Regions from separate parts of the Homo sapiens genome. Here all the other regions are reported to be linked to region 3. The links are microRNA targets in miRTarBase. Many come from high-throughput screens and were not tested one by one. Region 3 holds a microRNA gene; each other region holds the end of a gene's coding sequence.
Evidence for each region. The annotated mature microRNA hsa-miR-548aw reads GUGCAAAAGUCAUCACGGUU and lies in region 3 at 1,502-1,521, shown strand. An mRNA with a match to its seed (bases 2 to 7 or 8) in the 3' UTR can be bound and repressed. Matches are read on the target gene's strand: a 7mer-m8 pairs with bases 2 to 8, a 7mer-A1 pairs with bases 2 to 7 and ends in A, and an 8mer does both.

Region 1 (3,000 bases), not on the chromosome of region 3:
GGAGGAATTTGGGTGCGGGGGCTGGATTTGAGTGTGGGTAGCCACCCCACCACTACCCACCGCTCACAGAGGCTGGGGACACAAGCGGTCTGCTAGGTCCCTAACTCCTCTCCCTTTCTAACGCCACAGAGATCGACATCACATGCTGGGATGCAGACCCAGTTCCAGAAGAGGAGGAGGGCTTCGAGGGTGGTGATTAGCGGTGGCGCCAGCCCTAGGCTACCCTTGCCAAGGCCGCCCACCTGCATCAGCCTCTGGCCAGACGGCCCGCCGTGCCTGCATTCGCAGCAGCTCCGCCTGGCACCCACTCCGGATTCCGGCCCTGGCTGGGGACTTGGCCGCTTCCCTACCCACAGGGCCTGACTTTTACAGCTTTTCTCTTTTTTTAAAAAGTTGATAGGAGACTTGTACAGTTGACTGGCTTTCCTCTCGTTGGTAGTTGAGACGCTGTTGCAAATTCCACCCCTCCTTCCCTGGTCCAGATTGTAGCTCTTAGTCCTCCCTGCTCAGCTGGCCGGGTTGGAGGCCTCACCCTGCTTGGGGCCTGGCGTGGGGGGAGCTCTGGTGGGAAAATGTCCCCCACCTCTTTTCCTAGTTTTATGTTTCTTGGGAAAATATCACTTTGTATTCTCTGTCCAGGGCTTCAGATATTTTGCACGAATTTTAAAACATGGCAATAAATGGCTCGTGGGCTCTGGCTCCCTGGGACCCCCTCCCCGCCCTTCTTTTGACCCCTTCCTGTCTGGCCCAAAGGAAGTAGCAGGCCCAGCTGGGGCCCCTCGGCTACCCCCCGTCTCCTGCCGGGCAGGTCCCAGGTTGGAGGCCCTAGGCGCGGTTCAGGTCAGGGCTATGGATGGGGCCCAGGGGCTTTGGTGGCCCCTCCCCAACTCCTTCCTCTTTGCTTGGGTTCCTTTTTCACGTTTAGTAACTGTTTTTTTTTTTTTTTTTTTTTTTTTTTTGGAAAGCACAAACTTCTGTAACGGGTCGTGCTCATGTCTGTTAATAAAGAAATCCAGATCCCTTCGGGCTGCCGCCTGCCCTGACCCAGGTTCCCAACTCCTCCCACCTCCGAGGCCGCAGCACCTCCTTGCCACCAGGGGGCGTCCTCACCCTAATTCCAAGGCCCGCCAGGCGGGGGCGGGGTGGGGGGGCGGTGCTAGGGGCTAAGGCTCCCAGGGGAAGCCGCTTGGCACCTACAACCACCGGAGAAGGGTTGGTCTTAGACTTAGTGCTGTACCCTTAGGTTCTGTTGTGGCGGAAACGCACGTTGAGGGTCCTTCCCGCCAAGGCCCCGGCTTGTCTGGTCACACAGAACCCTGGGCGAAAGCAGCCGGTGCACCCTCCGCTTGTACCAAACCAGATCACACACCTTTATTATCCTCAAAATGTAACAAACGGGATAAGAAATCCCTCCCTCCCCCCGCCCCTCCCCGCAGTCCAGGGAAGCATTTAAAAAGCCCCGCAGTCAGGCCAGGAGTCCGCCGGTGGGGCCCGGGGCGCCGGGCGCCCCTCTATACGGCTGTAGTCCTCCCGAACAAGGGGATGGAGACCGGCAGACGCCAAGCTCCGTGCTCCAGGGGCTCGCGGCTGCTGAGCTCTGAGTCGGTCCAGCTGGGGAAGACCCGGCGGCCACGGTCGGCCTGCAGGCAGAGGGCTGGGCAGGGCGGCGCGGGCCGAGGGGCGCTGGGCAGGTGCAGCGCCGAGGTGTAGCCCCGGTCCAGGAAGAGCGGCTTGTAGCTGGGAGGCGGCTGCTCCTGCTTCTCCGCGCTGTCGCGGCGACTCAGGAAGGGCGTGACGATCTTGCGGTAGAGGCCGCGCGTGTCCGTGAGCACCTCGCTATAGGGCGGCGGCGGCTCTGCCATCAGCACCGCCTCTTCGTAACACGGTGGTTTGGACATGTCCGATTCCGCTGCGGAGTGGGAGGCGGTCGGAGGAGGTGAGGCCGCCGGTTCCCAGCCTCTCGCAGAGGCCCCGGCCAGGGGCCGCCCGCGCCCCAGCCCTAGCCCGAACCCGAGCCCGCCGCCGCCCGTGTTCTCCCGGAGGCTGCGGATGGAAGCCCTGAGGGTAAGCAGCGAGCCCTCCAACGCCCGCCCACTTCCGGCGGCCCGGATCGCCCCCTGGCGGAGGTCGGTACTCACCTTGGCGCGGGTAGCTCCAGGGCCGTGGCGGCACCGACAGGTGCGTAGGCGGCGGGTGCGGGAGCGCGTGGTGGTGCGGGTGTGGGTGCGCGTGCGCGTGCGGCTGCGCGGGCCCGTGGTGCAGCAGCGGGTGCACGTGCACGTGCGGATGCGAGTGCGCGTGAGCCGGCGCCTCCAGGCGGCTACGGTGTGGTGGTGGCTGCGGCGGCGCCAGGCCCGGGGGGCTCCCGGCCAGACTGCCCTCGAGTTCGAGGGGCTCCAGCTCTAGGGCGCGCAGGTTCTGCTCGCGCAGTCGCTCCTCCTGGCGCCGTTTGAGGCGGCGGCGCAGGAAGCTGCAGAAGCAGCAGAGCAGGACGATGAGACCCCAGATGAGCCAGAAGCCGGCGAAGCACGTGAGGAACGTGTAGGTGCCCTGGGACATCACCATGGCGGCGGCACGGGCGGCGGGTCCTCAGACGCTTCACTGGACACTGGGCTCCGCTGCGTGGCCCCGGGCCCGCGCCACACTCTCAGGTGCCGCCAGCGTCACTCGGGGACCCGCGGCCGGGGGCTGCCCGTGGCAGGTCTCAAGTCGTGCGCGCGCCGGCGGGGGACAGCAGCGGCGCCCGCTCCTTCCCATGGCGCCGGCGGGCGCGCGGGCGTGCCTCACCCGGGGCCGCGCGGGACCTGTAGGGCAGACACGGGGCGCAGTGAAGGCGCGCCGCGGCCCCCAACGACTTCCCGGCCCCCGCCCGCGCCCTGCGCAGTCCGGGGAAAGCCTCCTCCGTGGGAACCTCGCGCTCCCCGGGGGCCCGGTGACGTCACCGAGGAGGGTGACGTCACGCCTCGAGGTTTCCCCGGTAGGGTTTCCCCGATCTGAGCC
Region 2 (3,344 bases), not on the chromosome of region 3:
AAAATACAAAAATTAGCCGGGAGTGGTGGCACGTGCCTGTACTCCCAGCTACTCGGGAGGCTGAGGCAGGAGAATCGCTTGAACCTGAGAGGCGGAGGTTGCAGTGAGCCGAGATCACGCCACTGCACTCTAGCCTGGCAACAGAGCGAGACTCTGTCTCAAAAAAAAGTAAAACCAAGAATCTGACTGGATTGCTAATATTCTCAACCAGATGACTAAATAAGTTAAATTTCATCCCAGTTTCTGATTTTTATCAAATTGTGTGGAATAGCATGGCTTTATTTTGAGAGTCATAATTACTTTATGTGCGACTACTACTTACTCTCATTGAATTCTTACCTAATCAATGGGCTAATAGTAACAAGTAATAAAAGCCATATCATTTCTCATTAACCTTTTATTTTTAACTTAGTTTTACAATAAACAGAAAAGAAGTTATCATTAAAAAAATACCATAGCTGTCAAGTTTAAATGAGGTTCTTATTAAACAAAGCAGGAACACTATATCCTATAATTACATCTTTACTTTTATATACAAGAACTGTGTGCAAAGTGCTTTTCAAACTATAAAATAAGACTTTGGAACAGGATAGAAATGGTTATCCCTAGGAGTTAGTTATCCCAGACTGCTTGTAATGATTCACAACTGCTTACACTCTTAATTTGCATTTTATTTATTTATATACTAAGAGAAAAGACACTTTTTACTGATACCAAATTGATATCTCATTTTTGAAAATAATCTTTGATCCACAGGTCTAAATGTTATTTTTACATATAAATTCAGTTGCTTGCTTCACTTTTTCCTAAATAAATAGGGAACACTTTTTTAAAAGCAAATAGTAGTAGATCCCTTTAGACAGACATATTTTAATCAGTATGGGATTAAATAATTAAAGTTATTTGAAAGAAAAAAATAAGGAAAAAGAGTTTGGGAAAAGTAAATTGTATTCTTATACTTTTCAGGCAAACAAAGAACCATTCTGTATACTAAAGACAGATTATTTCTTATTTAAAACACTGTGAACATATGATGTTAAACCCAACATCATACATCTTGAGAATGCTTAAAAATTATTTGCTACAGGCCAGGTGCAGTGGCTCACGCCTCTAATCCCAGCACTTTGGGAGGCCGAGGCAGGCAGATCACCTGAGGTTGGGAGTTTGAGATCAGCCTTACCAACATGGAGAAACCCCGTCTCTACTAAAAATACAAAATTAGCCAGGCATGGTGGTGCATGCCTGTAATCCCAGCTACTTGGGAGTGAGGCAGGAGAATCACTTGAACCCAGGAGGTGGAAGTTGCAGTGAGCCAAGATCACGCCATTGCCCTCCAGCCTGGGCAACAAGAGAGAAACTCCATTTAAAAAAAAAAATTATTTGTTACAAAGACTGCATCAAAGAAATCTTCAAAGCACAAGGTACATCTAAGTGAGCAGGAAGTTTTGGAAGGCATACAGGAAAAGTCTCCAAGGATCTAAATTGTAGTCTTCTTTTTGGTCTAGATGAGAGAGGTGGGGAAGAGGGACTTAAATTTCTGTTAGCTGGGCATGCCTTATTCCTATGGAAGCATTTGGCCCGTTAGCTTGCAAATCCCTCCAGTACTCCTGTGAAGTAGGTGTATCTAAAATAGTATACCCCGAAGGAAAAACTGAGGCACTAAGAGGTTAAGAGTCCAGTCTATATAGTTCATCAGTTGCAGAAAAGTGATTTTCGTGTGTTTCCTTTTTGACTGTTGTAAAAACAGTATAAATAAGTTTTCATTTTATATTTCAAAGCACCCTATGAAGCAGACACTAGATATCCTCAGTTAAACAAAAATGATTACAAAGGAATACATTTATATGATTGAATAAAAACCTGATTAATCATCTACAGGCTCAGAATACACTTTTAAACCTACATGAAGCTCATTCTTCACCATTTCCATCAGTGGGTTATGTCTAGCCTGCAAATCATTTGTAAAAACTCAGTCTGGTACATAGGACTCCACTTTTTAATAATGATGCCTGAACACCAAACTCAAGAGTTGTGAATGCCCAAGAAAGATTATGGGCAGCCCACAAAGTGAATATGACCATTCTTCCTGTGGTTTTCTACTACATGCCATGGCAACTCCGTGACTAAGATATAAAGTCGATTACATCTCATTTGAAATTCACTCCTGGTTTGCATTCTTTCTTTTATTTAATTTAGAAAATTAAAAATAATAACTTATAAATTTGATCTCATTATCACAATGGTACCTTTGAAAAGCAGCTTATGTTACTCTATGGAAGATAATCAGGTAAACATGTTACCAAATGATCATTAATAATTTAATGTCCTTCAAGTTCAAGGGCAGGGTAAATCTGTGTATACTACTTATAACCTAGTAGAGATTGATTATTCAAGTATCAGCAATATTAGTCCTTAAAATGTTATCGTTTGTGTAGTGCAAAATATATATGTGTATATATGTACACAAACTAAACTACTGGACAACAAAAAGCAATGTAATCATCACAAACTAAGATTTTCTTGTGAACACCACAATCCAGTTCATTCTGAGGTCATCCAGTTCCAGTAGTCTTCTTGAGGAAAACACCATTTTCCTCAGTTCAGTTTTCTTTAAAAAGAAAATAAAAACCAATTTCCTGTGAGTATGAATGCAAATAATTCTCTGGATGGTAACATAATAATAATAACATACAAATTCAAAATAAAACCATAATATTACCAACAGTCTTTATAGAACTACATCATATGACTTGCAGCCTGATAGGAAAGATCCAATTACAAGTGCTGAAATTACCAAACAGTTTTAAATTATTTATTTATTTATTTACTGGGGCAAAGTCTTGCTCTGTCGTCCAGGCTGGACTGCAATGGTGCCATCTTGGCTCACTGCAACCCTCCGCCTCCCGGGTACAAGCGATTCTCCTGCCTCAGCCTTGCAAGTAGCTGGCATTACAGGTGTGTGCCACCACACCTGGGTAATTTCTGTATTTTTAATAGAGACGAGGTTTCGCCATTTGAACTCCTGACCTCAGGTGATCTACCCACCTCAGCCTCCCAAAGTGTTGGGATTACAGGCGTTAGCTATGGCGCCCAGCCATCCTGGCCAGTTTTTAATAAATAATTTAAATGTACATTCATCCTCTCTTACTTTCTAGATTCTTACCCTTTTCTAATTGGCTATTACACAATTAAGATTTGTGGAAATGATTTCATAATTTTATCAAAATGGAAAAGTTATGAAACAAATGCGTAACAAAACTGTAAGAGGATAATAGATGTACGACCTGGAGTATTCACTTAATCAACATGGATTATGTTTCTATTACTTTCCAGGCTCTGTGCCA
Region 3 (3,288 bases):
GTGAGGGACTGACGAAGGGGCCCACCTCGCCCCTGCCCGAGGGACCGAGGCCCAGGGTGCAGCCGTCCCCTCGGGGGCCAAGGAGGGGCGAAGTGCTCCGTCCGGCTCGCCTCTCCTCCCCAGGGACCCGCCAGTCCCGGCCGGGCCAGCCGGAGATAGCGTGTAATAAGAGGGAGGGGAGAGCTCTCCGAACCCCCCTTCCCCGGGATCCCTACCAAGCAAGTGAGTCTCTTGCTCCAGCCCCTCCGAGCCTCCCCGGCTGGAGTCATGGTGCCGGGGCTGCCCCAGGAAGCCCCCATAAAAAGGAGGGGGAGACACCCCCATACTCACCCACCGTCTCCTCCCCCTCAGCTGTTTACCTCACAGTCCCTCCAGCCTACAGGGCGCCGCCATCTTGGACGTACAGCACCTCCCCCGTCGTGAAAGGGCCAAGGCCGACGGCGGCCTCCGCCACGAAAAAGAGTCCCCCTCCGGACCTCCCCTCCTTCTCGAAAGGAAGGATAGACGGCCGCGCTCGGCAGCCCCGCCGGAAGGAAGAGGCTCTTCCACTCATAACTGACGATGTGGGTTGGACGAGAAAAAAAGTAAGGAGGGTTTTTATGGAGGGGGGCGGGGCCGGGCGGAAGGATCCGAAAGGAGGCTGCGAAGAGATCTTGTGACTCCGCGAAGGAGGCAAAAAGAAGGGCCGGCGCGGCGGGAGGAGCCACGCGAGAGCCCGAGGGGGCGGGGCGGGCGGTCACGTGACTGGCGGGCGGGGGGACGCGGCGGAGAGGCGTAAACAAGCTGGCGGCGCCTGGGTGTGGTTGGAGCGCCCTGCCCCTGCCCCCCGAGTCGTTTCTGCCCTTCGCTTGCGTGGCGCCCTCCGAGGGTCTCTCTGTGGGCGGCCTCAGAGCAGCGATCCTGTTTCCCAAGGAGCTGCTGGGGCCCGCGTGGGTGAAGGGCCTGCTTGGGAGCTTTGGAGTTGCAGCTCACCTGGGAAGGGGCGGAAAGCTGCGGGCCAGGGCAGCCCTCCTTCCTGGGCTAAACATTTTCAGAAGCCCGCCTCCGGGATTGCGGGGGACCCCCCTGGCTTCTGCCTTCAAGTAGCTCACACTTCACACCTACTCATGACATCTAGGGGAAACCAGCCCTAATAGGAGACAGCTTGAAAATCAGAACGCCTTATTCCGTTTCCTGCTGAAACAAGGCTTTAAGTCCTCCAAGCCTCAGTTTCTTCCTCTGTGAAATGGGCATAATGACATCTGTGACGTGAAGAATCAAGGAGATGAAGTATGGACAGCGTTTAGCCCAGAGTCCTGCGCCTAGTAAATGCTCACTCACTAGATAGGTGGCCTTTATTGCGAGGCTGAGTATGATGGGCTCCATCCAGCACGAACACAAAGCCCTGTGAGAGGAGGCAGAGTGAGATGAAGTCGAACTGTGGGATATGAAAGGCATTTTGAAGGAGTAGGCATCAGGTTGGGTTTTAAAGGAAATGTAGGTTTTGTGAAATACTAGGTCGGTGCAAAAGTCATCACGGTTTTTACCATTAAAACCGCGATGACTTTTGCATCAACCTAATAGAACCAGGCGAGGCGGCTCGGGAGAGAAGGCCATTCCAGGCAGAGGGAACCAAAGGAGCAAGAGCCTAGGGGCAAAAAAGTGTTGGGTGAGTTATGGGAATAACAGGTTTTGTCATGGGAACCAATTGGGTCACAGTGCAAGGCAGCCATGGTTAAGGGGGGCCAGGTGTGTGAGTAGCCAGCACCGTGGGTGCCTTCAGAATTCTGAAAAGGCCCTGGATGGTATCGGGTAGAGCCGCTGCTAGTCAGTATAGGGCCTTGGTGAGAATTAGAAAAATGGCACCCCTGGGCTGTATTTTGGCCCCTATCCACCAGCCCCAAACCCTCCTGGGCCCTTGAGCAGTGAACAACCTTTATAACCATACGTCTAGAGCCACGAAGGCTTAGGAGGGAGGTGAAAATTGAACTGATGATTCCTCTGTTCTAACACAGTCGCTGGGGGGAAGCTAAGAGTTCTAGATTCAAACAGACCAGAGTTTGAATGTAGGTTTCAGCCATCATGTTCTAACTGGATGAGCCTTAGTCTCCTCACCTGCAACATAGGGCTAATAATAATGCTAGTTCATGGGGATTTGGGGTGAAGTCAGTGAGTCATTAAGCTCTAAGTGGCACAGAGCCTACTCCAGTTAATGTTATTTTTGATAACTGTTAAGTGCCAGCTGTCAGCATCCATCACTTCCAGAAACGGGTCCACCAAACACTAAATTCTTCTGTGTCACCACCCAAGCATAGTCTGCATGGGGTCCAGAGATGGAAAGGTCGAGGGAAACGGGGAAGGGTCTGGGTTCTCTCAGTTCCACCAATCTGCAAACTACTTTACAGGAACAGACTCTTCCCTTTGCATTCACACCAGGGAAGGGATTCAAGATTTCTGAAATCTTCAGAGATTTCTGAGACCACCAGTGATGGGAGACCTAAGGAGGAGGGCAGGGGGAGCAGCACTGCTCTGGAGCTCTGACCCAGGAAGCCCCCCCACACCCTGACCTTCCTTGGCTCCATGACCTCATCCTGCAGGAATGCATTCTGCCATGGAGGAGAGCAGCCATAAGCAGAGCTCATCAACTGCTCACTTTCCAGGGGGCCATAACCACATTGTCACTGTTTCTACACTGTCTGGAAGAAGAATGGGCATTGTTACCTCAATATGGGACCACCAGGGGCTTGCAAGAAGAGGCTGAAGGTGACAGGCAGAGACAGCTCTACTACCATCTCCTGCCACTTACCAGGCTGGGCCACCTAGATGTTTTCTGCTTCTCTGGGGTTGATTTTTGTCATTTGCTCAACAGACACTATTCAGACCACTACCTTCCATACACCACCCTGGAGCCTCCCTGTGACGGGGCTTCCTGACCGGCCTGTCTGAGCATGAAAGGGCTGAGCCCTCCATAGGCGGGCGTGCTGACAGGATGCACGTGGTGGAGGACATCTGCTGCATTTGGCTGTGTGACATCTCCCCCTCGCCTTCTGAACAGGTGAACCGCCCATCCTCAATTCTTTCAGTGCTGATGGTCCTCACAATCACAGTACCAGCCCCAGGCCACAGCAGGTGGACCAGGCCTGGCCAATCTGAGATGCCCATCATGGAGCTTGTTAAAAGAAAGCTTAAGACAAGTTCAATTAGATTAAATTTAATCGAGCAAAAAAAAAAAAAAAAAAGAAAGAAAAAGAGAATTCATGAATCAGGCAGCCTCTAGAATCAACAGATTCAGAGAGACTCCCGGGGTCA

Region 1: miRTarBase lists DBN1 as a target of hsa-miR-548aw. Seed matches in the 3' UTR shown: 7mer-m8 at 651-657.
Region 2: miRTarBase lists ACBD5 as a target of hsa-miR-548aw. Seed matches in the 3' UTR shown: 7mer-m8 at 2,436-2,442 and 7mer-A1 at 1,587-1,593.

The regions. Positions count from the first base shown.
Region 1 is chr5:177,454,633-177,457,632 of GRCh38, reverse strand. It overlaps DBN1 (drebrin 1), which reads left to right. Exons shown (of 15, transcript NM_001363541.2): 15 at 130-1,023. The coding sequence ends at 200. PRR7 (proline rich 7, synaptic) reads right to left here. Exons shown (of 4, transcript NM_030567.5): 3 at 2,139-2,804; 4 at 1,347-1,909. The coding sequence starts at 2,565. The coding sequence ends at 1,512. Among named protein-coding and RNA genes, the nearest start is that of PRR7-AS1, 8.2 kb to the right of the region's middle. RefSeq lists enhancers at 1-466, 2,031-2,325, 2,573-3,000 and silencers at 1,019-1,218, 1,589-1,728, 1,819-2,368, 2,878-3,000, 2,559-3,000.
Region 2 is chr10:27,194,835-27,198,178 of GRCh38, forward strand. ACBD5 (acyl-CoA binding domain containing 5) reads right to left here. Exons shown (of 13, transcript NM_145698.5): 13 at 380-2,608. The coding sequence ends at 2,596. Among named protein-coding and RNA genes, the nearest start is that of MASTL, 41 kb to the left of the region's middle.
Region 3 is chr9:132,944,213-132,947,500 of GRCh38, forward strand. MIR548AW (microRNA 548aw) reads left to right here and starts at 1,495; the gene lies at 1,495-1,559. It overlaps TSC1 (TSC complex subunit 1), which reads right to left and starts at 404. Exons shown (of 23, transcript NM_000368.5): 1 at 331-404. It also overlaps a transcript of GFI1B not described here. RefSeq lists silencers at 12-71, 132-191, 722-801 and enhancers at 276-1,009, 322-621, 982-1,121.